Linked DNA regions of Homo sapiens: regions 2 and 3 are each linked to region 1. Evidence: fine-mapped expression QTL. A gene starts in region 1. Each other region holds a variant in brackets. All regions are shown on one strand. Distances are between the middles of the regions.

Evidence for each region. PIP is the estimated chance that this variant, and not a neighbour inherited with it, causes the effect. A credible set is the group of variants that fine-mapping cannot tell apart.
Region 2: its variant is the best candidate, but not a certain one, in a credible set for the expression of DHX33 in sun-exposed skin (GTEx, PIP 0.57).
Region 3: its variant is the best candidate, but not a certain one, in a credible set for the expression of DHX33 in thyroid (GTEx, PIP 0.51).

The regions. Positions count from the first base shown.
Region 1 is chr17:5,460,734-5,471,817 of GRCh38, reverse strand. DHX33 (DEAH-box helicase 33) reads left to right here and starts at 2,836. Exons shown (of 12, transcript NM_020162.4): 1 at 2,836-3,247; 2 at 8,129-8,289; 3 at 9,272-9,499; 4 at 10,709-10,879. The coding sequence starts at 2,959. It overlaps DERL2 (derlin 2), which reads left to right. Exons shown (of 7, transcript NM_016041.5): 7 at 1-564. DHX33-DT (DHX33 divergent transcript) reads right to left here and starts at 2,726. Exons shown (of 3, transcript NR_135644.1): 1 at 2,679-2,726; 2 at 1,824-1,904; 3 at 1,458-1,726. RefSeq lists enhancers at 2,743-2,812, 3,193-3,412, 3,202-3,784.
Region 2 is chr17:5,338,725-5,343,724 of GRCh38, reverse strand. The region is part of intron 5 of RABEP1 (rabaptin, RAB GTPase binding effector protein 1); the gene reads right to left. Among named protein-coding and RNA genes, the nearest start is that of RABEP1, 59 kb to the right of the region's middle. The variant C/G (reference allele first, on the strand shown) is at 2,071.
Region 3 is chr17:5,437,936-5,449,019 of GRCh38, reverse strand. DHX33 (DEAH-box helicase 33) reads left to right here. Exons shown (of 12, transcript NM_020162.4): 11 at 125-211; 12 at 4,507-8,103. The coding sequence ends at 4,815. It overlaps C1QBP (complement C1q binding protein), which reads left to right and starts at 9,865. Exons shown (of 6, transcript NM_001212.4): 1 at 9,865-10,178; 2 at 10,747-10,897. The coding sequence starts at 9,947. RefSeq lists an enhancer at 9,469-9,648 and silencers at 9,708-9,890, 9,869-10,038, 10,149-10,198. The variant CACGA/A (reference allele first, on the strand shown) is at 5,186.

The sequences.
Region 1 (11,084 bases):
TTTTTCTTTGACAGGTGAGTTCCAGCTATGTTGTTAGTCATGATCCTGCCATTATTTTCTGTGTTCTGTAGGATGTCTCCAGGCTACTTAAACATATTTTATGAGTTTGCAATAAAATTGTTGAATCTTGTATGATCAAGTCACTCCTCTGCTCAGAAATCCACAGTGACTTCTTAGTAAGCCCCTACATTATATGCATACTTGTTTTTTTCTTAACTTTACTCCCACTTCTACCTAACAGGGACCTCAACTTAAGTCTCTTCAGTTCTTCAAGGCCTGGCCTTGTTCCTGATTCCTCAAAAAATCTTGACTCTAAGGCCTATTTTATTGTCTGTCTCTGAATCCCTATAAAGCTTCAAGTCTGTATGACATTCTTAACGCCAAATTATATATTGTCTTGTACTGTTCCTAGCTGGTACATGTATATTAGTCTTGTCTCCCTCATGAGAATGTAAGCTCCTTAAGGGCAGGGACCATGTCTTAATTTTTGTATCCACCACAGTGCCTAGCACAGTGCTTGGCACATGGGTGCTGAATAAATACCTTTGTTTATTGATCAGCAAAGTATTATCTGGTATTTTTAATTATAGAGGGATTAAAGTGTATGCATGCAAGCTTGAGCCTAGTTGCTGAAGCTTGTGGTTGTCTCTGAAAGTGGGATAGAGGGAAACTGAACATGATCAAGGGCAGTAATTTGGTGGTCGGAAAAGCAAAGGTGACCACCAGCTGTTATGGTCGTGATCAGACCAGTTAAGTCCACAGACCATCCCAGACAAGTTAAAAATGAAATGTGTCTGACACTTCGTCGTTTGAAGGAAGAACCAGGATATTCTCTGAATAGTTATTAGCTTGTCAGTATCTACATATGAAAGCTGGTGAACCCCAAGAGACTTCTTCAGGAGAAACAGCAGATTTCAGTCTACCAATGGGAGAAATGTGAGCAGCATGGCTTGATGCATATATAGGACTTAATTTTTCCACTCTTTGGTCCTCTTAGCTTTGAGGCTATAGAATAGCTGGATCATTAGGCCAGAGATTATGGATGAGTTACCTACAGATTTGTTACCTACCTATGTGCTTTGTTTTGACAGTACTTTTTTTTTTTTTAAGTTTAAACCTGTATTTAACATTGACAGATAAAAATCTTCACTTTTGGCTTTTCTTGAGAAAATTGGAAGATCTGGCAATAATAGGTCTACATGACAGCCATTGCCTAGAAATGATTAGGGGCTGCATGTAGAGGTGGAATGTGCTCCATCAAGAAATAAGTCCACCCATTTACATTACCTAAATTATTGTAATCATTTGGAACATCGGACTCCTACCTTAAGTTACTCTGGAAAGCACACTGGGAAAAAGGACTGGGATGTCTTTACTCAAAGTCCATAATTTGAGAGTTAACATTTATTATCCCTTGTAGTTTTGGGTTGCCTTTCTAAATATTTCAGGGTAGGAAGTGAAAATTTGTCAGTTTATTCTTAAACACAAATCTGCTGCTGGTTCAACGTGCACATTTTCAGTAATGCCTGGTCACCAAACTGTCAGCAACTAGAGGAAAATTATCTCCGACCTGGAGCAAAGGGGAGGTTTTTTGTTTTTAGACTAGCTCTCTCACGAATCACGGGAAGGGAGATATTTAACAGGGCGAGTTTCATGGAAACGAGCTTCAGAAGATACCCTTCACATGAGCTGAAGCTTACGGTGTATTCTCTGGAAATCACATTTCCTGTAAGAGCAAACAGCTACTTGGCATTCTCCGTGGTAAATTAGCAAATCATCTAAGAACTTTTAGGAGGGTAAGGAAGAACTAGTTATAATCCTACTTTTTTCTGCTGCAGTTCTGAATCTTCACTGAAGTGTCTGTGATGGGGTTGCACAGCCATGTAGAGAACTTGAGAGTCTGGCTGGAATGGTTGGGGGAAAGGAAAGATAAAAGACAATTTTAATTTCATTGAACTCCCTCCTTTCTCTGCTTGTATTACTGGAGGCGACCACATCCGTTGGAGGAGTCATTTTCTGAGTTAAATTCATGTATATCAGAATTGGTTTTCCTTTCTGTAACACAAGATGATCACAAAATTATGATTTGGGGACATCTGAATGACTAAGATGACTCAATTTCTTAATCTGTAAATTAGAGATAATCTAATAACCAGTATATACCACATAACTTATAAGTTGTTTAGAGGATTAGACAATGCACGTTTGCGCTTCTCATTGATTTTACAGAATTAAGTACTTTCCTTGAAGAGTGACTGTTATTTGGACAGAGAAGGGGAAAACGCGGGTTTACTGAAAAGAAGTAATGCTACTAGAACAAAACAATGGGCGGGGCGCGGTGGCTCACGCCTATAATCCCAGCACTTTGGGAGGCCGAGGCAGGCGGATCACCTGAGGTCGGGAGTTCAAGACCAGCCTGACCAACATGGAGAAACCCTGTCTCTACTAAAAATACAAAATTAGACGGGCCCCGGTGGCGCACGCCTGTAACCCCAGCTACTTGGGAGGCTGAGGCAGGAGAATCGCTTGAACCCAGGAGGCGGAGGTTGCAGTGTGAGCCGAGATCGCGCCATTGCACTCCAGCCTGGGCAACAAGAGCGAAACTCCATCTCAAAAAAAAAAAATAAAACAATGAGAAAAACCTCGTTAACCAAGACTACAGTCCCACGGAACCTTACATCCTGTGTTTCCCGGTTGTAGCTCCGGGCCTTTTCCTGGTTGTACCTCAGGCCCTGCTTTTCCCACCCCCAGGAAGTGAAAGCCTTCCCAAGCCCCCAAGGCATGCTGGGAGATGCAGTCCCTTTTTCTAAAGACTGGGGCGGCCGTGAGGTCATCGGTGGTCGCCGGGAGCCGCCAGCACGTGGCGGCGAGGAAGGGGCGGTGTGCTCCTGTTGTCTGCACCTGAGAGGGGGCAGGAGCTCTCGGCGCTTGCGCCTCCCGCCGCGGTGCCCTCCCGACATGCCGGAGGAGGCGGGCTTCCCGCCGGCCAAGAGATTCCGGCCAGGCTCTGGACCTCCGAGCCGCGCTGGGTCCTTCCCTCCCGGGAGGCAAGTGGTGATGCTGCTGACTGCGGGCAGCGGCGGCAGAGGAGGAGGAGGAGGCCGGAGGCAGCAGCCGCCCCTGGCCCAGCCCTCGGCCAGTCCCTACCCTGAAGCTGTGGAGCTGCAGCGCCGGAGTCTGCCCATCTTCCAAGCGCGGGGGCAACTGTTGGCCCAGCTCCGAAACCTGGACAACGCGGTCCTCATCGGTGAGTGGCCGCGCCGGCGGGCTCTTCCTTGCACTTCGTCCGTGGCTTAGCTAGAGCAGTTTTTCTTACATGCCTCTCAATCCCTTTCGTTCGTGGCTTCAACAAACCTGAATACCTTTTCTGGGCCAGACCTGGAGAGGGGCCTCGAAGAAGAGTCCGGCAGCCCTGCCCTGGAGGCGCTGGACAGCCCGGTGAGAGTGACCAACGTGTGTAGGCAAAGACTCACCTTCCGCGTAAAAGGGTAGAGAAACGTACCGGGGGCTTGCGGATCTTAGAAGAGTGGATCTGACCCGGTTTGTGAGGAGGCGGCTGGGGAGGTCGTGTGGGAGGGAGGGCATTCTAGGCAGGGGGGAAAGCCCGTTTGAGAGATGGGAACCTGAACACATTCCGGTCGAAAGGGAAGGTGTAGTTTCTGGTGCATGAAAAGAGGCAGAGTTGTGGGGCAGGGACTGATTTCATGGGGCTTATGATCCCCAACGTGTTAGAGGAGATACTGAAGGACGGAAAGGATGAGCAGCCAAAGAGAGGAAGGAGACCCATGAGTGCTGCTAGTCAAAGGAATAGAGAGTGAGCAGATGCAGCAGTCAAGTCCGGTTATACTGGACTTGGATGTGATGCCCACTGGATTTGGATGTGAGCTATTTGTAAGAGTTAAAGAAAAAGGAAAGAAACACGAAACGCGGCTGGCAGTTAAAGACAGCTTTTCTTTAGTTAAAACCTGAGAGGCGCTCCTGGCCGATTTCGGTCAGGAGCCCTTTCTCTTACAGACTAAGAGTATATATTGGTGTTAGGGTGAGGGGGCTTATCACAAGCTTGGAATGTTTATATGTGTGGAGAAGTTTTTGGCAGGGTTGGACTCTTTGGGAGCAGGGGATGTTATCTTGGGGCAGACATTTTTCCGGCCCGAGGGGGTTTATCTCCCGGCTGGCATATTCCCGGCTGGCATATTCCCGGCCAGAGTGGGGTTATCCCTTAACATGTCTCTGGTCGGGGAGGAGTTTGGAATGTTTCTGGCTGGAGATGTTATTTGTGGTTTATGGTCGTGCTGACCTTAGCCATTAGGCTGATACCTTTTGGATTTAGGCGGTTTTTTATTAAGGTGAACTTTTGAATGAGGGGCTTGTCCAAGATGGTGATGTTCCTGCTTTGTCAATCCAGACCCTATAGTTATAAAAAGGAGGAGGGACGGCATGTTCTTTCTGGCTACTTCCTGCAACGAGGGGATGGAGAGTTTCCTGGTCTCGGGTTGACTAGGAGCAATGCCGTCTGTAGATGTTTTTGGGTAGTTGTTTGTGAAATTGCCATGATCCTGTCAGTTAAAAATCTTTGAAAAAGATTAATTAGGCAGGGTAAGAACATTAGTTCCAGGCATATTATTAGGAGAGGGCCCAGGAATGGGATGACCCATGCTATGATTTTGTTTTCAAACCAAGAGTCCATTTGGTGGTTTTGGTACTCCCTTAGCTTTTTAGCCTTTTCTTTACGTTTTTTAGCAGCGCTTTTTACTAGGCCCGATTGGTTGATATAGAAAGAGGCGTGAGCCACCGCACCTGGCCCCCTCAAAACAATTATTTAACCTTTTAACGTAGGTAAAAATGTGCATTCTTATCCCTCCTGATAATCTTTTTACCGAAAGTGTACTTTACTTTCCTTACACACCTTGCACATAAAGTGTCTCTTCAATAGTTTTAAATACATGTTACACTGTTAACTTTTAGCAACCTTTACCTTTGTTGAAAACCTTGGTAAGTTCGGGATTTTAATTATGTGCTAGGTGTACAGCCTAGGACTTAGACAGAAGTGCAGTTAAGGTCTGGCTTATTTCAGCATTTAGCTCCATGTGTCCTAGGTTTTACCTAGCTGCAAAGCAGGCAAGTTCTACAGCTAAGAGTTATGGTGACATTTTATAAAGCATTCAGGAGGCCTAATCACTTTTAAATTGTAAAACATTTCTTGCATACATTTCCTCTCATAAAATTTTTCATGACTTTCACAGACTATCTCTGACACTATTGATCGTGGATCCATCCCATCGAGAGCTATTTCAACAAAGCTGTGTGGGTAACAGCTGATTTGTCATTGAGCTGAGGGCTGAAAGCAGGGGGAAGAGGCTTCTGTTTTGAGGAAAAAGGAGGGAAGCTGAGAGAAACTTTATGGATGCTGCTCGATTTAGGATGGGGTTATGTGTGGATGAATCCACCCATCCTCATAAGTTGAAAATATCCTAAGTTGGAAATGCATTTAATATGCCCAGCCTACTTTCAGTGTGCTCGGAACATGTACATTAGCCTATGGTTGGGTGATATTATCTAACATGAAACCTATTTTATAATAAAGTCTTGAATATTTCATGCAATTTATTGAATACCATACTGAAAGTGACAGTTGTGTGGGTACTCAAAAGTACAGTTTCTACTGTACGATTTTGACTTTTGCTCCATCCTGAAGTCAAACAGTTCTAAGACAGGGACCATCTGTATTCAGAGGTTGAGGGGAAGAACTCAGTAGGGAGGGAGGCAGAAGATAGAATCGAGCTAACAGAGCAAAGATCAGGAGGCATGGGGGACGGGGGAACTTGGCCACAAGGGCTAGATGCAGGGCTGGTCTGGAAGAGGAGGAAGGCTAAGAGGCTGCAGGGCTAGAGAACGGATGTAAGGATGGTGCACTGCAGAAGGGCTTCTAGGGGCAGTTAGGGAGAGACCACATTTTAGAACCCCACTTCTGTGAGACAGGTTCAGGAGCCCTGCTCAGAATGGGAGTCACTGGGCTTCAAGTGGGCCCTTGGGGAGGATGGAGACGAGACAGGCTGCAAAAACAAGAAAAAAGATCGATGGCAGTAGTGGTGCCTAGGTGCATTTCGGCTACACTATAAACTCAGGTTTGCTTCTGCACAGCCAGATTATAGGTGGAACATCCCAAATTTGAAAATCCGAAGTCAAGAATGGGCTCCAAGGAGCATTTCCTTTGAGTGTCATATCAGATGCTCAAAAAGTTTTGGATTTGGGAGCATTTAGGACTTCAGATTTTCACATTTAAAATGCTCAGCCAGTAAGTATAATGCAAATATTACAAAACTTGAAAGAATCCAAAGTTCAAAACACTTCTGGTTCCAAGCATTTTGTATTTTACTTTAGCAACGCTCTGTTGCCCTGGTATAGGAGCATGAAAGATAGAGACATGGATCAAAGTTTGGGGTTTTGCCTAGTGGATTCAGCAGGAAGATTGCAGAATAATCAAATCCTTTGTCTGATTCTTATCTGGGTCAGGAAGGATGAGCAGTCAGAGGGGGCTGACAGACTGACAGGGAAAAAAACCCACAAATCATGGGACTGGAGGACTTTTTGAAGTCAGAGAGGCCTGGTGGTAGCTAGAGGGAGGGGAAGGAAGCGCAGGTTTACTGAGTTCTTTGCTCTAATCAGGCACTGTTAAAGGAATTCACACAGGGTAGGAAGTAACATTTACTGCGTGCTTATTGTATGCAAAATACTCAAGTACACGAGAGGGACATTCAGAGCACTGCCCTCTGGGAGCTTCCCTTCTGGTGTTGGAGGAGGACGGACACATTTAAACGCTTCTGTACAACACAGGATGGTCAGTGCTGGAAGAGAGATGAACAAGGCACTACGGAGCCCAGAGGAGGGCCACTGTGCAGCCAGGGGAGCGTGTTTGAGGCCTAACTCATCTTAGAGTTTGCGAGGCAGGCAGTGTGAGGGCAGGTGTTCTGCCCATAGTGTGGGCAGAGGCAGAGGGTTTGAAGGGAGGCAGCAGGCTGGGGAGTGGCCAGGAGTTGAAGGCAGCAGTGCATGAATGGATGTCTCTTCATGTCAGTCAGTATGCAGAAATCTATGTAACGGTTGTATTTTATTTTATATTTTAACTATGTAAATTACCTTTTGAACATTTATATTGTTTCCAATTTTTTTCTGTCAGGAGCAAAATTGAATAAAATCTCTTTGAAGCTGTATCTTTATACACATGTTTACTTATTTTGTTAGAATCAATTTCTGCAAGTAGAATTGTGGGTCAAGGGATATAAACATTTTAAAGATTTAAAAAACATAATTTGACCACCTGAGAAACAATACCAATTAACCAGCTAATTTCACCAGCAGTATACATACCTGAATGCCCATTCTCCTGAGGCTTTACCAACACAGGGTATTTTATCTTTTACTTCTGACTTTGAGCTGTTTGTTTGGTGAAATTTATGTCAATTTGCTTTTTGTTGTTGTTGTTTTTCTAAGACAGGGTGTCATTCCGTTGCCCATGCTGGAGTGTAGTGGTGTGATCATGGCTCACTGCAGCCTCAACCTCTCAGGCTCAAGCAATATGCCCACCTCAGCCTTCAGAGTAGCTGGGACCACAGGCGTGCACCACCACGTCCAACTAATGTTTGTATTTTTTGTAGAGACGGCATCTCCCTATGTTGCCCAGGAGCAACTCCTGGGCTCAAGTGATCCTCCTCCCTTGGCCTCCCCACGTGCTAGGATTACAGGCATGAGCCACTGTGCCCAGCCGATTTGCATTTCTTTTTTTATTTTTATTATTTTTTTTGAGACAGTGTCTCACACTATCTCCCAGGCTGGCATGCAGTGGCACAATCATGGCTTACTGTAACCTTGAACTCCTGGGCCTCATGATCCTTCTGTCTCAGCCTCCCTAGTAGCTGGGACTACAGGCACATGCAACCACACCAGGCTAATTGTTGTTGTTGTTGAGACGGGGTCTTGCTATGTTGCCCAGGCTGATTTTGAACTCCTGGGCTCAAGAGAGCCTCCTACCTCGGCCTCCCAAAGTGCTGAGATTATAGGTGCCAGCCCTGGTGCCGAGCCCCAGTTTGCATTTCAGTGAGCCTTTTTTTTTTTTCCCCCTCTCTCCTAGGGGAAACTGGCTCTGGGAAGACAACTCAGATCCCTCAGTACCTGTATGAAGGAGGGATCAGCCGCCAGGGCATCATTGCTGTGACCCAGCCTCGTCGAGTAGCTGCCATCTCTCTTGCTACTAGAGTCTCAGATGAGAAGAGAACTGAACTTGGGAAGCTGGTACCTGGTTCCTTCTTGACTATTAGTACTTCTTGACTCAACAGCTCTCTCCCCATGCCCACTGCCTTTTATTTTTCTAAACAAGACTCCTTTTACATAGTGAGCTGCTTTCTTGCCTATTCTTCCGAGAGTTCTTTACCAGCTCCTGAGAGATCAGGGGCTCTATTGGTCCCATGTGCTTTGCTTTCAAAATCTGTCGTCAGGTTGGATAAATTAGTTGCTTTCCTTGAACATCTTAAGCCTTCAGTAACCTCTCTTAACTCTCTTATCTATATATCATTCTAGAAAAATTGTAAGCATTATGCCAGTGTATATGTGAGTATTGAGAATGAGTCTCAGAACTGTATATAAGACAGATTTATTTGTGTGTGTGTGTACTCATTTCACTTAAAAATACCTTAGACGTCTTTTCATATCTGTACATAGCTTCACATGAAACTTTTTTTTTTTTGGAGATAGTCTCGCTCGGTCGCCCAGGCTGAGGTGCAGTGGCGCAATCTTGGCTCACTGCAACTTCCGCCTCCAACCAAGCAATTCTCCTGCCTCAGCCTCCCGAGTAGCTGGGATTACAGACACGTGCCACCACACCCAGTGGCTAATTTTTGTATTTTTTAGTAGAGACGGGATTTCAGCATGTTGGTCAGGCTGGTCTCAAACTCCTGACCTCGTGATCTGCCTGCCCCAACCTCCCAAAGTGCTGGGATTACAGGTGTGAGCCACCACACCCGGCCCACATGAAACTATTAAATAGCTTGAGGTAGAAGGTTAATTTTAAATATTCCTTGTAATAGTTACATTAATTGCGGTTAAAGTAAACTTGACCATTGTCTCTCTCAGCAGCTAGACTGCATGCTTCCCAAGGGAGTGGGAAGCGTTGGTGTTGGTCTTGTTCACTGTGGTAGTGCAAGTGCCCAACTTAGTGCCGGACACAGTGGGCGCTCAAGAAATGTTTGGTGACTGAATAAATTGTTTCCCTGCACAGGTTGGCTATACAGTGCGCTTTGATGATGTCACCTCAGAAGACACCAGGATCAAGTTTCTGACAGATGGCATGCTTCTGCGTGAAGCAATTTCAGACTCTTTGCTTCGGAAATACAGCTGTGTCATTTTGGATGAAGCTCACGAACGGACTATCCACACAGATGTGCTCTTTGGAGTGGTGAAAGCTGCACAGAAGAGGAGAAAGGAACTCGGGAAACTTCCTCTGAAAGTATGAGGGAAACTTCCCCTGAAAGTATGAGGGAAACTTCCCCTGAAAGTATGCGTAACACACAGAAGGAAACAGGCCTGGCTGGGCGCGGTGGCTCACGCCTGTAATCCCAGCACTTTGGGAGGCCAAGGCCGGTGGATCACCTGAGGTCAGGAGTTCGAGACCAGCCTGGCCAACGTGGTGAAACCCCGTCTCTACTAAAAATATAAAAATTAGCTGGGTGTGGTGGCACACATCTGTAATCCCAGCTACTTGGGTGGCTGAGGCATGAGAATCGCCTGAACCCAGGAGGCGGAGGTTGCGGTGAGCTGAGATCACACCACTGCACTCCAGCCTGGGTGACAGAGCGAGACTCTGTCTCAAAAAAAAAAAAAAAAAAAAAGTGAAAGTTCATTAAATAGCATAACTTTATAGACAACTTGTATTTCAGGGAGTTGGCAGAAATATGATCTGAAAGTATCCAGATAATTGGCCCGGCACGGTGGCTCACGCCTGTAATCCCAGCACTTTGGGAGGCCGAGGCCGGTGGATCACCTGAGGTCAGGAGATCGAGACCAGCCTGGCCAACGTGGTGAAACCCCGTCTCTACTAAAAATACAAAAAATGATCCAGGCATGGTGGCACATGCCTGTCGTTCCAGCTACTAGGGAGGCTGAGGCAGGAGAGTCACTTGAACAAGACTGAAATTCCGTCTTGATTTTTTTTTTTTTTTGCACTCTGTTACCCAGGCTGCAGCGTGGTGACGCGATCTCAGCTCACTGCAAGCTCCGCCTCCCAGGTTCACGCCATTGCTTACCTCAGCCTCCCAAGTAGCTGGGACTACAGGCGCCCACCACCGCACCTGGCTAATTTTTTGTATTTTTAGTAGAGACGGGGTTTCACCGTGTTAGCCAGGATGGCCTCGATCTCCTGACCTCGTGATCCGCCTGCCTCGGCCTCCCAAAGTGCTGGGGCTGGGATTACAGACGTGAGCCACCGTGCCCGGTGAAACTCCATCTCAAAAAAAAAAAAAGAAGGAAAGGAAAGGAAACAGACCTGTGTGCTCTAGCAGGGTGTTTTCCTCTGCCTGTTCTGCTCAGAGCCTTGGAAGAAAGTAAACTGTGATGGGGGTGGCACAGGCCTCAATCATCTGCTTTTGGGGCTCGAGAGGGACACGGAAAGGCCTTCCCACTATTTGTTTCTGGTCCTCCTCTTCGTTCTCTTATGCAGGTGATTGTGATGTCAGCTACGATGGATGTGGACCTGTTCTCTCAGTATTTCAATGGCGCCCCCGTCCTCTACCTAGAGGGTCGGCAGCATCCGATCCAGGTGTTTTACACCAAACAGCCTCAGAATGATTACCTGCACGCCGCGCTTGTCTCCGTCTTCCAGATCCACCAGGTATGGTGCTGGGGGCAAATTCCTGAAAAGTTCTCTTTTATCTTGCAGTTGGTAGTGAGAACATTGAGCCTTGAAAAGAAAAGCTACTGAATAAAACAACTTTGTGAGTTGTGTCATCAAGATGAATAAGGAGGCCAGGTGCGGTGGCTCACGCCTGTAATCCCTGCACTTTGGGAGGCCGAGGCAGGTGGATCACCTGAGGTCA
Region 2 (5,000 bases), 130 kb after region 1:
CAGCCTAGGCAACACAGCAAGACCCTGACTCAAAAAAAAAAAAAAAAAAAAAAAGAGAAAAGAAAGAAAGAAATCTTTTTGAAGACAACAAGGTGGAGAGAGTGGGTCTACCTATCAGATAGTACGACTTGAAGTAAAGCTACTATAATTAAGATAGTTCGTTACCGGTTTAGAAATAAACCTGTCTCCCGGGCTGGAGTGCAGTGGCCCAATCTCAGCTCACTGCAACTTCCACCTCCTGGGTTCAAGTGATTCTCATGATTCTCATGCCTCGTCCCGAGTAGCTGGGACTACAGGTATGCACCACCACATCTGGCTAATTTTTGTATTTTTTGTAAAGAAAGAGTTTCACTATGTTGTGCTGGCTGGTCTTGAACTCCTAAGCTCAAGCAATCTGCCCACCTCAGCCTCCCAAAGTGCTGGAATTACAGGCATGAGCCACCGCACATGGCCAGATAATAATTTATTTATTTTGAGACGGAGTTTCACTCGTCGCCTAGGCTGGAGTGCAATGGTGCGATCTTGGCTCCCCGCAACCTCCGCCTCCCAGGTTCAAGCGATTCTCCTGCCTCAGCCCCCCAAGTAGCTGGGATTACAGGCGGATGCCCAGCTAATTTTTGCATTTTTAGTAGAGGCAGGGTTTCACCATGTTGGCCAGGCTGGTCCCGAACTCCTGACCTCAGGTGACCCACCTGCCTTGGCCTCCCAAAGTGCTGAGATGGCAGGCGCGAGCCACCACACTCAGCCAAAAAGGGTATTTTTTAACAATCCATTCTTCACCCACTGATTTGTAATGCCACCTGTCATATATCAAATTTACACATATATAGGTCTGTTTCTGGGCTTTCTGTTTTATTGATCCATTTGTTTATCCCTAAACCAGTAACAAACTACCTTAATTATAGTAGCTTTACTGTGGTCCTGCTATCTGGTAGGTAGGCCAAGTCTCCTCATCTTGTCTTCAAAATTTTGCTAAGTATTTTCCTGTTCCTTCACTTCTCTATATGAAGTCTACTTCTAGAACTGAATTATCAAGTTCCTAATTAAACCCTATTGAAATTTAAGTAAAATTTAAAAATTTGGGGATACAATGTCTACTTTATAATGCTGTGTGTGTGTGAGACAGAGTCTCGCTCTACTGCCCAGGCTGGAGTGCAGTGGCACGACCTCAGCTCACTGCAACCTCTGCCTCCTGAGAGATTGGCACTACAGGCTTCCGCAACCATGCTCGACTAATTTTTGTACTTTTAGTAGAGACTGGGTTTCACCATGCTGGCCAGGCTGGTCTCAAACTCCTAACCTCAGGTGATCCCCCTACCTTGGCCTCCTAAAGTGCTGGGATTACAGACGTGAGCCACTGCACCCGGCCCAATGCTCTATCTTTTCATTCAGGAAAATACAGATTCAGGTCCTCATTTATTATGTAGTCTATAAGGACCCTGCCCATCTTTATTTAGCTATATTGGTAGCTAACTAGTTTTTCTTTTTCTTTTTTTTCTTTTTTTTTACTCTTGTGAATAGGATCAATCTTTTTTCCACCACTGCATTCTTCAACTGGTTATCACTGGGGCATAGAAAAACAATTATCTTAGTATGTTGATTTTGTTTGAACAACTTTCAAATTGTTGAACTCTTATTAGGTCTAACAATCTGTTGTACATTCTCTGGTTTCTTTATACAGACAATTGAATCAGTCTCGTTGCTTTCTTTCCAGTTCTTATGCCTCATTTCTGAATTACTGAGCATGGGTCTGCCCCAGAATGTTCCCACCATTAATGGTAAGGCTGCTAAATATTCACCCTTAACTATGTTTGCCAAAGGTTTGATAAATAGCCCTTTACTAAGTTATTGAGTGGTCAAATTTCTCAAATACCTCTCTGAATCCAAAATGAATATAATGCTGTTCTTCTACAATCATTTCACGTGTACACTGCAATGATAGATTTTCCGATAAATTTCTGGGAATACACCCTACTTGGTCATGATGTATTTCTCCCCCTTTATTTTACCTACGATGTTGAAAATTTTAGCTTCTGTATTCCTGAGACAGATCTATAATTTCTTCTCATA[C/G]TACCTTTCTATGTGTTTGCTCACTTGTAGTGAAGATCTACTAGTCTCATAAAAACAGTTGGAGAGCTTTCTCTCTTTTTGTATTCCCTGAGAGTTCGTAAAATATAAGAATTTGCTCTTTCCAGAAAGTCTGGAAAAACTTACCTGTAAAATCAACAGTTTAATATCTTTTGGTGAGAGGAGGCAAGAGACAATAAGATTTTTTACTCTAGATCCACTTTCTTTAATAATTACTGACTACCTTTCCTGTTTTGGAATAATTTGGGCTAATTATCTTTTATTAGAAATTTTTTCATCTGTTTTCAAATTTATTTGTGTGACAGTTTATAGTATTTGTTATTTTTAAATTTCTACTGATTTGTAGTTATGTTCTTTTTTTTAAGACAGGCTCCCTTGCCCAGGCTGGCGTGCAGTGGAGCCACCATGGCTCACCACAGCCTCAACTCCTTGGGCTCAAGTGATCCTTCTGCCTCAGCCTCACAAAGTGCTAGGATTACAGGCATGAGCCTCTACACTCGGACTCACTTCTGATTTCTCATTTTTGTTTTCATTTTTCCTGATCAGTCTTACCAGAGATTTGTCTATAGTTTTTCCATTTTTTCATTATATTGATAGTCTCTATTGTTCTTTTGCTTTTCTATTTCACAAATTCCTATGTTTATATTATTCATTTCCATTTATTTTGTTTGTACTTTTTTTTTTTTTTGAGACGGAGTTTTGCTCTTGTTGCCCAGGCTGGAGTGCAATGGCAAGATCTCAGCTCACTGCAACCTCTGCCTCCTGGGTTCAAGCAATTCTCCTGCCTCAGCCTCCCCAGTAGCTGGGATTATAGGCGCCCGCCACCACGCCCAGCTAATTTTTTGCATTTTTAGTAGAGATGGGGTTTCACTACGTTGGCCAGGCTGGTCTCGAACTCCTGACCTCAGGCGATCCACCCACCTCAGCCTCCCAAAGTGCTGGGATTACAGGCATGAGCCACTGCGCCCGGCTCAGTTTGTACTTTTTTTTTTTTTTTAAAGATCTGGCATTATTCACATCATTCTAAATATTTTGTAATTACTTTTTCCATGAGTATTTTTTTCATGTCCAAGCATTTTAACTATCATTTTAGCGTAAATACCTGAATAACCCATAGTTACAGAATTGGGTCTGTGTAACCTCAATTCTAAGATAATGTATCTAAAAATAACTATACCTTGTCCCAGGTACTATCCTAAAGGTTTATAGGTATTAATTTATATGTTCCTCATAATAGCCATACAGTGGCTACTATAGGGATTAATTTATATGTTCCTCATAATAGCCATATGGTGACTATTAAGGTGGGCTTATTATCCCCATTTCACAGTTGAGAAAATCAAAGCACAGTATGATTAAGTAATTTGCCCAAGGTAACCCAGGCTACTAAATGCTGAGCTCTTAACTATTATGTTCTAGTACTGTATGCGATACCATCTCACTCTTGGATACCGAGTTCTGTGTGTCAATTACAACTAAATAACTAACCTGATAGTTCAAAATGTCTATAGCTCTACTAATAATTTTTTCTGATTGTATTCTGTAAAGGTCAATTTTAATCTGCTACTATATTTGTGAAAGTCAGTTTCTCCTTGTAATTGTCATTATTAGTTTATGCATTTCATGACTATGTAAGGTGCATTCAAGTTCATGACTATTATATCTTATTGATGAACTGTTTATTAGATAGGATCCCTCTTTATCTCTATTAGTGGCTTTTCCCCCTTATCCTATCTTTGTGATACTACACTTGGTATATCAGCTTTCTTTTGGTTCGAATTTACATGGTATATTTTTATCCCTTTATTTTCAGTATTTTTTTCTTTCTTTTTTTGAGATGGAGTCTCACTCTGTCGCCCAGGCTGGAGTGCAGTGGTACAGTCTCAGGTAACTGCAACAATCTCCACCTCCTGGGTTTGAGCAATTCTCCTGCCTCAGCCTCCCAAGTAGAAGGGACTACAAGGCGCGTGGCCACCACGCCTGGCTAATTTTTGTATTTTTAGTAGAGACAGGGTTTCACCATGTTGGCCAGGCTGGTCTCGAACTCCTGACCTCAGGTGATCCACCCACCTCAGCCTCCCAAAGTGCTGGGATTATAGGCATGAGCCACCGCGCCCAGGCTTCTTTTAAGACAGAGTCTCACTCTATCACGTAGACTGGAGTGCAGTGGCATGATCATGGTTCACTGCAACTTCAACCTTTTGGGTTGAAGTAATTCTCCCATCTCAGCCTCTCAAGTAGCCGGGACCACAGGCACACACCACTATAACTGGCTAATATTTTCAGTCTTACCTTGTGGTTTGATTTTAGGCATAGCTCTTACAAGTAACATAAAGTTAGATTTTTACAATCCAATGTGATAATCTCTTTTAAACATAGGTATCAGTTTACATTTACCAAGACTATTGATAAATTCCCATTTATTTTCATATTGTTTTTATTTTCTTATGCTTCTTTTGTTCCTACTTTCTTCCTTTTTTTCTTTGGGTGTGGGGGACAGGGTCTCACTCTGTCACCCAGTCTGGAGTGCCAGTTCACTGTAGTCTCAAACTCCCGGGCTGAAGTAATCCTCCCATCTCAGTCTCCCAAGTAGGTGGGACAACAGGCATGCACCACCGTGTCTGGCTTTTTAAAAAATTTTTGTAGAGACAGGGGTCTCACTATGTTGCCCAGGCTGGTCTCAAATTCCTGGGCACAAGCAATTCTCCCGCCTCAGCTTCCTGAAGTATTGGGATTACAGGTGTGAGCCACAACACCTGGCCTGTTCCTACTTTAATTCTTTTGCTGTGTCTTTATGGCCAACAAATTCAGCAATACTATAGCTACATTATCTCTAAAAGATCAATGCTGGAGCTGGCATCAGAAAACAAGGTCAACTTCGAACAGTTTATTTTCCTTAATAGGAAAATGAA
Region 3 (11,084 bases), 23 kb after region 1:
TGGTTTGCAGTGAGCTATGATTGTATCACTGCACTCCAGCCTAGGGAACAGAGCAAGACCCCGTCTCTGTGAACATATAAATGGTGAATGAGTGGATTGTGATATCACTCTTTCTCCTATTCAGGATTGGTGCAAAGAGAATTTTGTCAACAGCAAGAATATGACGCTGGTAGCAGAAGTCAGAGCACAGCTGAGGGACATCTGCTTAAAGGTATCGTCTGGTCCTAGTGTTCTGTGGGTGACAAAGCTGTCACTTTGTTCAAGGTAGAAATTTTGAAGTTGCTTATTGCTAGTGATTATAAAAGGATTTCTCATTGTAGCAAATTTCACAAATAAGAAAAAAGGAAGTTACCCACAATTCCACAATTCAGTAGTTTAGCCTATTTCCTAATAGCCTAGTTTTTATTGTATTTTTTTACATAGTAAATTATATGTATAATTTATATTTGGTTTTATAATCTTTATAAGCATTTTCCAGTGTTAGAATTCTTCATAAGATTTTTTTTAAGTATGAATATCTGCATTATTTCCTTTTAGATTACCAAAGTTGTGTATAGTATTTGACACAATGCAGAAAATAGTGATTTATAATGTAGAAAGTTTAAAAGTCTCCCATAATCCTGCCCCTCCAGAGATAACTACTGTTAACAGTTTGGGGTAGCTCCTTCTAGAATTTGTTTCTGTGTATGTATGTTTTTGTGCATGTCTCTGTGCCTGTGTGTGAGCACACACATAACGGATACGTGCATATGAGGTACATGTTCCACAACTTCCTTTCTTCCACATGGCATATTTCTTTCTTTCTTTCTTTCTTGTTTATTATTTGAGACAGAGTCTTGCTCTGTCACCCAGGCTGGAGTGCAGTGGTACCATCTTGGCTCACCACAGCCTCCGCTCACTGCAACCTCTGCCTCCCGAGTTCAGGTGATTCTCCTGCCTCAGCCTCCCGAGTAGCTGGGATTACAGGCGTGCGTCACCACGCCTGGCTAATTTTTGTATTTTTAGTAGAGACGGGGTTTCACCACGTTGGCCAGACTGGTCTCGAACTCCTGACCTCAGGTGATTTGCCCGCCTCGGCCTCCCGAAGTGCTGGGATTCCAGGTGTGAGCCACTGTGCCTGGCCTCACATGCGTATTTCTCAAATCCTTCCTGTGGCTGGGCTTTCAGTGCTGCATGTGTCTAGCTCATTCATTTTAGTGATTTCATAGCATTTCATTGTATTCAGTGCAGTTTATTTAAGCCTCTAATAATGGTCATTTAGATTCTGTTGTAGTGACCATCCTCCGTATGTGCTGTGGTGCACACAGAATGAATTTCTAGATGGGGGAATTTGGATTTTGTTAGATATTGCCAAAGTGTCCACCGCAAAGTGTTTTTTTTCCTTTCTTTTTTTTTGAGACGGAGTTTTGCTCTTGTTGCCCAGGCTGGAGTGCAGTGGCGCGATCTTGGCTCACCACAACCTCTGCCTCCCGTGTTCAAGCAATTCTCCTGCCTCAGCCTCCCGAGTAGCTGGGACTACAGGCATGACCCACCACACCCGGCTAATATTTTGTATTTTTAGTAGAGACGAGGTTTCACCATGTTAGCCAGGATGGTTTTGGCCTCCCAAAGTGCTGGGATTACAGGCGTGAGCCACCACGCCCGGCCTAATTTTTTGTATTTTTAGTAGAGACGGGGTTTCACTATGTTGGCCAGGCTGGTCTCGAACTCCTGACCTCAGGCGATCCACTGGCCTTGGCCTCCCAAAGTGCTGGGGTTCCAGGTGTGAGCCACTGTGCCCGGCCCACAAAGTTTTATATTAGCTTTTTATTCCCTCTTAGAGTACATGGTGTTTTAAAGAGCTGTCATGGTATATTTAATGCTCGCATGACACTCCACATTTTATGTCAGAGATAGAGGGTAGCGGAAGTGTTCTTTTGCTGTTGATCACTGAGACAGTGTCCGTGTGTTTGCTGCTGTCCTGAGTACTCTGTGGTGAATGTCTTGTGCCCCCTCAGTGCGGACGCTGCTGGGAGACAGTCACAGCCTGTACCCAGGCCTGTGTCTGATGCCAACGGCCTACGGTTGGCACTAGAGCTGTTTCTTCTCATAGTAGCCTATTGTATTCTGTCTTTCACACATTTTTTTAAACTGCTTTTGTATTTGAACAGTTTCCTGCCAGTCTGTCTCTTGGCTTCATAAGTTTTCTCAATTTATCATTGACAGTAGAAACGGTGCTTCTCTATTAGTTGTGAATTTAGGACCCTGTAGTGGCCAGGGATACCTCTCATTATATGTCAGGCACTGGTAAGGTCCTGAGACTTTACAGACATGCCTACTCAGTAACTAAGTAATAATCTAGATGGTGACCTGACGTACATACACTCATGCCAGGAGGCCATCAAATTAAAATAATCACTATCATTCATGAAGTGTTTGTTCAGCACTGTTCTGAGTACTTTTTATGTGGCTGCCTTATTTAAACTCCTCATTTCTTTTTTTTTCTTTTTCAACTCAGACCTTAACCCAAAGGATAAAATCCTCATTTCAACCTATAAGATTGATTCTTTTGTTATTCCCATTTTACAAATGATGAAACTAAGCCTAATCAGGTTAAATAATTTGCCCCAAATCACTCAGCCAGTGAGTGGTAAAGCTGATAGTCTGGAAGGAGAGACCACCAGTTAGCCTCTGGGGCTTCTTGGAGGTGGTGACAACTGAGCTAGATCTTGACAGATAAGGAGATAAAAGAGTATCTTCCAGGCCAGGTGTGGTGGCTGGCTTATGCCTCTAGTCCCAGCACTTTGGGAGGCCCAAGCAGGTGGATTGCTTGAGGCCAAGAGTTCGAAATCAGCCTGACCAACATGGTGAAACCCCATCTCTGCTAAAAATACAAAACTAAGCTGAGCGTGGTGGTGCATGCCTATAACCCCAGCTACTCAGGAGGCTGAGGCACAAAAATCGCTTGAACCCAGGAGGCAGAGGTTGCCAGCGAGCTGGGATTGTGCCACTGCACTCCAGCCTGGGCAACAGAGTGAGACCCTGTCTCTTAAAAAAAAGTATCTTCTTCAGGCATAGATCAGCTGATTGTCAACAACAGAAACCCTAGAGCCATCATAAAGGACAAAATAAAGATTCTTCCAAGGATGGAAAGGTATCTCTGAGAACCGATAGGCAGGAAATAGAGTCACAGGAACCAGAAAAAGCCTGCAGGAGCCAGGCCCGCCACTTTCTCTGGACCTGCTGCTTCTCTTGCTTTGAGTGCCCTCTGCGTGCCTCCTTCCCTTTTCTCACCTTTACCTCCGCATGGAAGTGATTTCTCTGCATGGCCCCTCCACTCAAGAGCCCAGCAGAGATTGACAAGTTTTCCAGTTTCAAACCTAAAAGATGCCTGGAAGAGAAAAGCTGGCCAGCTTAGGTCCAGCGTGTGTGTACCACTGGTTTGTTCATCTGTGCCCAGGGGCGTAGGTTACATGCCCCACTCATCAAGAGCAGTAGAACAAGGACATTGACTGGTGACTGACATTTCCTCTGATGAGACAGGCAGCATTTCTACTAAGAGTAGCAAATGTGAAGGCACAGATAGGAATCATGAAACGGGGCGAGGAAAGAGAAGGCAGCCAGCTATGGGGGACCATGGAGTGTCTAAAGAAGAGTGGTGAGGCCGGGCGCGGTGGCTCACGCCTGTAATCCCAGCACTTTGGGAGGCCAAGGCGGGCAGATCACTTGAGGTCAGGAGTTCAAGACCAGCCTGACCAAAATGGTGAAACCCCGTTTCTACTAAAAATACAAAAATTAGCCAGGCGTGGTGGCAGGCGCCTGTAATCCCAGCTACTTGGGAGGCTAGGGCAGGAGAATAGCTTGAACCTGGGAGGTGGAGGTTGCAATGAGCTGAGATTGCGCCATTGCACTCCAGCCTGGGTGACAGAGGGAGACTCAGCCTCAAAAAAAAAAAAAGAAAGAAAGAAAAAGAGCGGTGAGAGGAAAGACAGGCGAGCAGCTCAGGGTGGCTCCTTCGTGGCTTCACCACGGGAAGTTTGCATTGTTTTGCAAGGAGCAGTAGAGACATTGTTGAAGGTATTTGAGTGGATGAAGAGTGATTCGAGTTGTGCTTTAGGTAGATTAGCTTGGCAGCAGCAGGTGGGTGAATCGGAGTGAGGAGATGGTGAGATGGTCAAAGCGAGAGGGAAGGGCCTTTCCTTTCCGGGCCGTCCTGATGGAATTTAGGTGAGGGGTGGGTCACCCAACCTGCCTGTGGTCTGGTGGCTAATGTGAGCACCTCCCTCCCAGCCCTACCTTCACAGGCGGTAGTTTCCCTGTTTCTGGTCCGTGCTCCTCCAGCTGGGCCTTCTTCCCCTGACCTTGCTGATCCTTGGTGACCACCTCCGAATGTCAGAATCCACATCGTTAGGCTCACAATGTGGGCTGCTTTTGCCCCAGTGGGTCCAGTTGCCCCAACACGCTGTGTAGTGCTGACCAGTGTTTACGTGTGGGGTCGGCTCCATTCCTCGCTTTCTCCCGAAACAGATGTCAATGCCAATCGCATCATCCCGAGGAGACGTGGAGAGTGTCCGCCGCTGCCTGGCTCACAGCCTCTTCATGAGCACCGCCGAGCTTCAGCCAGATGGCACCTATGCCACCACGGACACCCACCAGCCAGTGGCCATCCACCCGTCGTCTGTCCTCTTCCACTGCAAGCCGGCCTGCGTCGTGTACACTGAGCTGCTCTACACCAACAAGTGCTACATGCGGGACCTCTGCGTCATAGATGCACAGTGGCTGTACGAGGCTGCCCCTGAGTACTTTAGGAGGAAGCTGAGAACCGCCAGAAACTGAGCCGCCCCAGGATGCCGCCAGAATCACTGGTCCCTGGGAGCTTGGACTACAGTTGTCCTTACAGCAGGCTTCCAGGTTGGCGCTTAGAGAAGCCTTGGAATCAGCTGAAGGTGCCTGACTTCCAGGAGCGTGAAAGCATCTTTGCTCAACTCCTGGGACTGAACCATATAGACATGGACATATCATTTGTACCTGGAAACCTCAAAATTATGCTTTTGGTTCTTACTGGGTGACTTTGACTTAATTTAACACCTGAGCCTCAGTTTTCTCATCTGCCAAATGGGAGTAATAATAATAATCCTTATAAAATTGGGTTCATAAAGTTTAGAGAAAAGGAATGGAAAGTACCCAGAACTATGCCTGGAGCACG[CACGA/A]CACACGTACAGTGAGTTGGGAGCCGTTAGGCTGAATGTTACTGCTTGCCATATGATGTGAAGTACAGCAATATCCCAAGTTCTTGTGACTGAGGGAGATTTTCTGGAAGGGCCACAGGAGGTTGCGGAGCTTGGATGTTGCCCTTAGTTCTTGTTTAATGTCTCTCTGAATGCAGTTTTAAAATAGAAAACAAAACTGACTTCTGTAGAAGTTTCCAGAGGGAGGTGCTGTTATCTCGTACCTCCTGGGATGGCGATCCCTACTGAACGCTTGTGTCTCAGGGTGGACCACTCTGTGTCTGTCTCCAAGCAGAGACCAGTAAAGGAGCCTCCTGGTCCTCAGTGCGTGACCCTGTCAGTGCTTTCAGGAGACATGTAAGCTTCCTGGGTGAAGGTTGATTTGTACCTTCTGAATCCTGTCACGTGTAGACATGGGAAACTGACCTATCAGTGTTTTGTGTGTGTAGGTGACTCCCACATACACAGTTGCCATTTTTCTCTCTAACTGGGCACCAGTGAACATGCGGGCATGAGGAGTGACTGTGTACCATTTCAGCTGTTTCTTTTCGGGCAGTCCCCTGGTCAGAGGGGGTGGGGGTGGGGGAGGGGAGAGGGGTACCTAGAACCCAGAGAACATTGGCTTATGCCAGATACCACACCACATCTGGGCTTACATTCTTGTATCTTTTTTGGTGTGTGGGCGGGGGGGGTGGGGGGCAGTTCAGTGAAGTCTAGAAGACCTGCTGGACAAATTCTAAAAGAGCTAGAGCTGTAACACTTATTCTTGCATCTTATTAATTTTCTATGATATTTTTTCCTTCTTCGTAGGGACTTGGGACAATCTGGCTTTGCTGCTTTCTAACTGCTAGGCACCTCTCTCTAACCCTCATTGTCAGAGGGAATTGGAGGATATCCACAGTCTGTTCCTGTTCTGATATTCTGAGCAGAGAAAAGGCACTAACGGTTCCTCTTAGCTATTTAATTATCAGAAGCAAGTAATCTTTCCCCAGATAATATTTTGCCCTAGAAGAAGCCGTGATTTAGCTCTTTTATTGTGCTTACTTGGTCCAAATACATCTGTGGGGTGTTTTGTCATTTCTTAATGAATGAATCATAGTTATAACCAGGGGCCAAGCTGCCCAAGAGGCTCTTCAGAGATCATGGATGCTCTCTTTCTGGAAGCTGTGGCCTGATGGAGCAGCCCCATTCCAGGGTCCCATCTGTCCGGAGTTGTGTATGTCAAGTCCGGCTCAGTCTTTATTTCCAACACTAGCCGTGGTCCTGTGCAGTCAAGCTCTCAGCTAGTGTTTAGGGCTGTCTGTCAGAAATGGTTATACGTGGGCAAAAGAAGATCTGACAGCTCCTATATACCTTATCTTACTGAATTCTTAAACTTTGAACCAGTTCTTCCACTTACTGACTTGTTACCACTGCTGACTTTCTGAAAAGTTTTCCAGTTTTTGTTTTTTGTTTTTTGTTTTCCAGTAGGGGATTAGAATGTTTAGTCCTACTTAGTAAGAAAAATATTGTATTTTTAATCATTCATAGTGCTGGTAAAAAAAAAAAAAAAAAAAAAAAAATTGGGGGGTGGCCGGGCGCAGTGGCTCACACCTGTAATCCCAGCACTTTGGGAGGCCAAGGCGGGCGGATCACCTCATGCCTGTAATCCCAGCATTGGGATGGGAGGCTGAGGTGGGTGGATTGCTTGAGAAGTTCAAGACCAGCCTGGCCAACATGGCAAAACCCCGTCTCTACTAAAAATAGAAAACTTAGCTGGGCATGGTGGCACACGCCTGTAATCCCAGCTACCGGGGAGGCTGAGGCACAAGAATTGCTTGAACTTGGGAGGCAGAGTTTGTAGTGAGCCAAGATCACGCCACTGCATTCCAGCCTGGCCGACAGTGTGAGACGGTCTCAGAAAAAAAAAGAAAGAAAGAAAGAAAAAGAAAAAACTTGGGGTAATTTATGTCCAGCTTAAGTACCTGAACAGTTTCCGGAAATGTATATTTTTTTTCTGAGAGGCAAAGGATGTAAACAGCTTCTAAGTAGCTTTAATGTTTCTGTACAGAAATAAGTTTATCCCTGTAACATTGTGGTAGAGTTTTAATACAGTATTTAGTTTTTTATTGGGCTTTTTTAAAAAGTTAACTTTTAACATAGCTGCTCAGGGATTAAATCAGATTGGAAAACCCATTCTGACTCCACATACTGCTACAAAGAAATACATCGTTGTTTATATTGAGCTGCAGGAGATAGTACACTTTAAACTTAAGAAAGTTAAATGTTTCACAATAACATTGCAATATAATCTTCAGCTACTCTCTTTCCATTGGTAAAATCTCTGATGGTGTGATAACTCTTTGCCAACCTACGAAACCCATATCTGGAAGAATCACCAGCTCCCGTGAGCAGCTTCATGTAAATAGATGCACTCCAAGCAGATTGCATGCCTCAGGTGTTTGTCTTCTAGTAATCATGGAGTGTGCAACACCCAGAGTAACACTACAAGGGGCAGGACTGCAAACAGCAGGTCCTGGCTAAAAACCCTTAATGCTGCATTGCTGCCAGTTGTAAAGAGATGCCTGAATGGAGGCAAGTTCTGCCCTGTGGGTGAAACTGATGATGTACTGTACTGTCATATATAAATCCACTAAATCCAGCTACCAGGAACTGCCTGGAACTGTGGCCATGCATTTTTTTTTTTCTTTAAAGACCAGTGTGATAGTAGGCCATGCATCTGAGATACGATATTCCTTGGTAACTAGAGGGAGAAAAAAAAATCAAGTAGGTTCAGGCTTATGTTGTATTTTGAGAGTCTGGTTTTATTTGAACAGAAATAACTCTACAGAAAGCTCTTGTAAATAATGCTCAAATTTGCACCCGACGATCAAATCCATTAAAAATGAATCTTGTATATGATGTGTGTGGCTTGTTTCTTGCATCTCTTTTCCATTATTCATAGAAAATTATTTAGAAAATATTAAGTGTTAGTCTTACCATGAGTTAGTAAGACATACCTTCTTAGTAGCTTATATGTCCTGTATATCCTGGGAAGGTAGGATTGTTGATTTTTAATAAATCTGAACCCTGTCTTTGGGTTATATTAATTTACTGGAGAAACTCACAGAACTCAGGGAAACACATTTACCGGTTTCATACAAAAGATATGACCAAGGATACAGATAAGGAGATGAGCAGGGTGGGGAATGGGGAAGAAGCTCCCAGCCTCCATGCCGTCCCTGGACCACCACCCTCCAGGAACCTCCATGTATTTAGCTATCAGAGGCTCTCCAAACCCTGTCCTCGGGTTTTTATGGAAGCCTCTGGACTTATCTAAATGATATAAGCTGGCTTCTTGTCCCCAGAAAAATGATGTTCCATTAGAACTTGGATGCAAGGTTGGAGGTGCAGAGAGGGAAGGTCACAAAAATTAATCATGGATCCTGCCCTTGAGGATGTCACAGTCTGGTTGGGTTTAACCTGGTTAAAGCAGCAACGCTAGGAGGTTCCTGTTGAAAAGAGAATGAAGCATATGGGCTGGGTGCGCACAAGCATGAGTTCCGAGCCGGTGGAAAAAAAGGTTCTAGAAGGCCTCTTTCAGGAAAACCCTCAGACTTTCCTTTGCTCTCACAACACAACAATCAACACAGAAGACTTATGTGGCCAAAGGTTTGGGTTTTTCCCCTCCACACTAAGCAGCAGACACCAGCTGGGTGTCCTCCAATTCAATCCCAACAGTATCTACCTGGAGATAGTGTCAGATCCCATAGGTTGAGGGCTCAGTCCCCAAGACCGCCCCCACCTTCAGACAGCAATGGCAAGTCTGGGCCTCTGAAACTTCCGACCAACCCGCTTCAAGTTGGGGTTCCCACGACCCCCCTCTTTGGATTATGTTAACTCACTGGAGCAGTTCACAGAACTCAGGGAAACACATTCACCGGTTTCATATAAAGGATATGACCAAGGATACAGATGAGATGAGCAGGGTGGGGAATGGGGAAGAAGCTCCGAGGTTCCTTGCCTACCCTGGGCCACCACCCTCCAGGAACCTCTACGTATTCAGCTGTCAGAGGCTCTGCAAACCCTCTCCTCTTGGGTTTTTATGGAAGCTTCTGGACATCAGCATCCCTTCCCCCAGGGTATATGGTGGGACCTTCTCTGGGAAGGGACTTAAGACCCATAATCAGAAATGTGGAAGGAGATTAGAGTCCTGCTTTGGGGCAGGTAAAAGGAGGGCAGGAGAAGGGGAGAGTCTGTTTCCTGAGGCCTAACACACCCAACATTATCACAGAACATTGTAACAAGGGCTATAGGAGTTACGACCCAGGAACTGTGGATGAAAACCAATACATATATATATCATAACACCACAGCCTCCTAGAGGAAAGTGACCGTGGAAGGGTCTGGTGAGAGCTGGCGGGAGACAAGAGTGCATTCCACGCAGCCCAAAAGCCTTGCGTGCTTTGAGAACAGCAGGTGGAAAGTGGGTAAGCGGCCACTAGAGGGAATTAAACAGCTTCGGACAGCGGACTCGGCAGCGCAGCAAGAAAGCTCCGGAATCCGGATTCGAGGCTTCCCGGGCTGCACCGGAGTCTCCAGCAGAGGGCGCGATTCCGCCCGCTGGCCTTAGGTCGTCAGAGCGCCGGCGCGGGAAGCGCTTCCGGGCAGGGGCGGGGCTTCCGGCGGCGCCTCAGGTCGCGGGGCGCCTAGGCCTGGGTTGTCCTTTGCATCTGCACGTGTTCGCAGTCGTTTCCGCGATGCTGCCTCTGCTGCGCTGCGTGCCCCGTGTGCTGGGCTCCTCCGTCGCCGGCCTCCGCGCTGCCGCGCCCGCCTCGCCTTTCCGGCAGCTCCTGCAGCCGGCACCCCGGCTGTGCACCCGGCCCTTCGGGCTGCTCAGCGTGCGCGCAGGTTCCGAGCGGCGGCCGGGCCTCCTGCGGCCTCGCGGACCCTGCGCCTGTGGCTGTGGCTGCGGCTCGCTGCACACCGACGGTGAGGTTTAGCGGGCCGGGGGTGTGGTTTGCGTTCAACAGAGGGAAAACGTAGACCAGGAATAGGGCCTGCAACCGACCTCTGAGGTCTGGGACATTTTTCCATTGATTGGCAACCAGCGGGCTAAACCCACGTATGATCATATTTCCCCCACCTCCCCTATCCAGCAGTTTCGTTTTCTTTTGGTAGGGGGTGAATAAAATTAAATACTAGGGTACCTTTTTCCTTAGTCTTATTCTATCGAAAGTGGACCTTTGGGAAGGCCCATGGTCGTGGTTGAAAATAGCATAGTTATATCGTTTGGCAAGTGGAAGAGGATTGGAAATTCTCCTGGTTTATAGCGGAAAGTGGTAATGCGTTCATTGTTGGAAATCACTTTTCCAGAATCAGGCTCAGCTTCCTACTACTATTATGGTATTTTTACCGATAAGGAAACAGGCTTCTAGAGTAACCGTAATAGCAGAGAGATTAGAAACAGTCCAGGTTTCTGGCTGCAATAACCTGGGTAATAGTTTTATGTTTTAGACTAACTGGCTTTCCTTTTTATGTATCTGGATTTCTTTTCTAGGAGACAAAGCTTTTGTTGATTTCCTGAGTGATGAAATTAAGGAGGAAAGAAAAATTCAGAAGCATAAAACCCTCCCTAAGATGTCTGGAGGTTGGGAGCTGGAACTGAATGGGACAGAAGCGAAATTAGTGCGGAAAGTTGCCGGGGAAAAGTAAGTACTGGTCTGGGGATCCCAGGGCAGCAACTCCCTTAACCTTGCAGGACCCATCCTGGGTCATCCCCAGAAGAGCCTTGAGTTCAGGTGTGGATACTTTGATAAATGGGTTTCAAGAGAGTGAAGGATTCATTTGGACAACTTCGTAAGCCCCAGGCAGTCCATTCACCGAACACAAATTTGC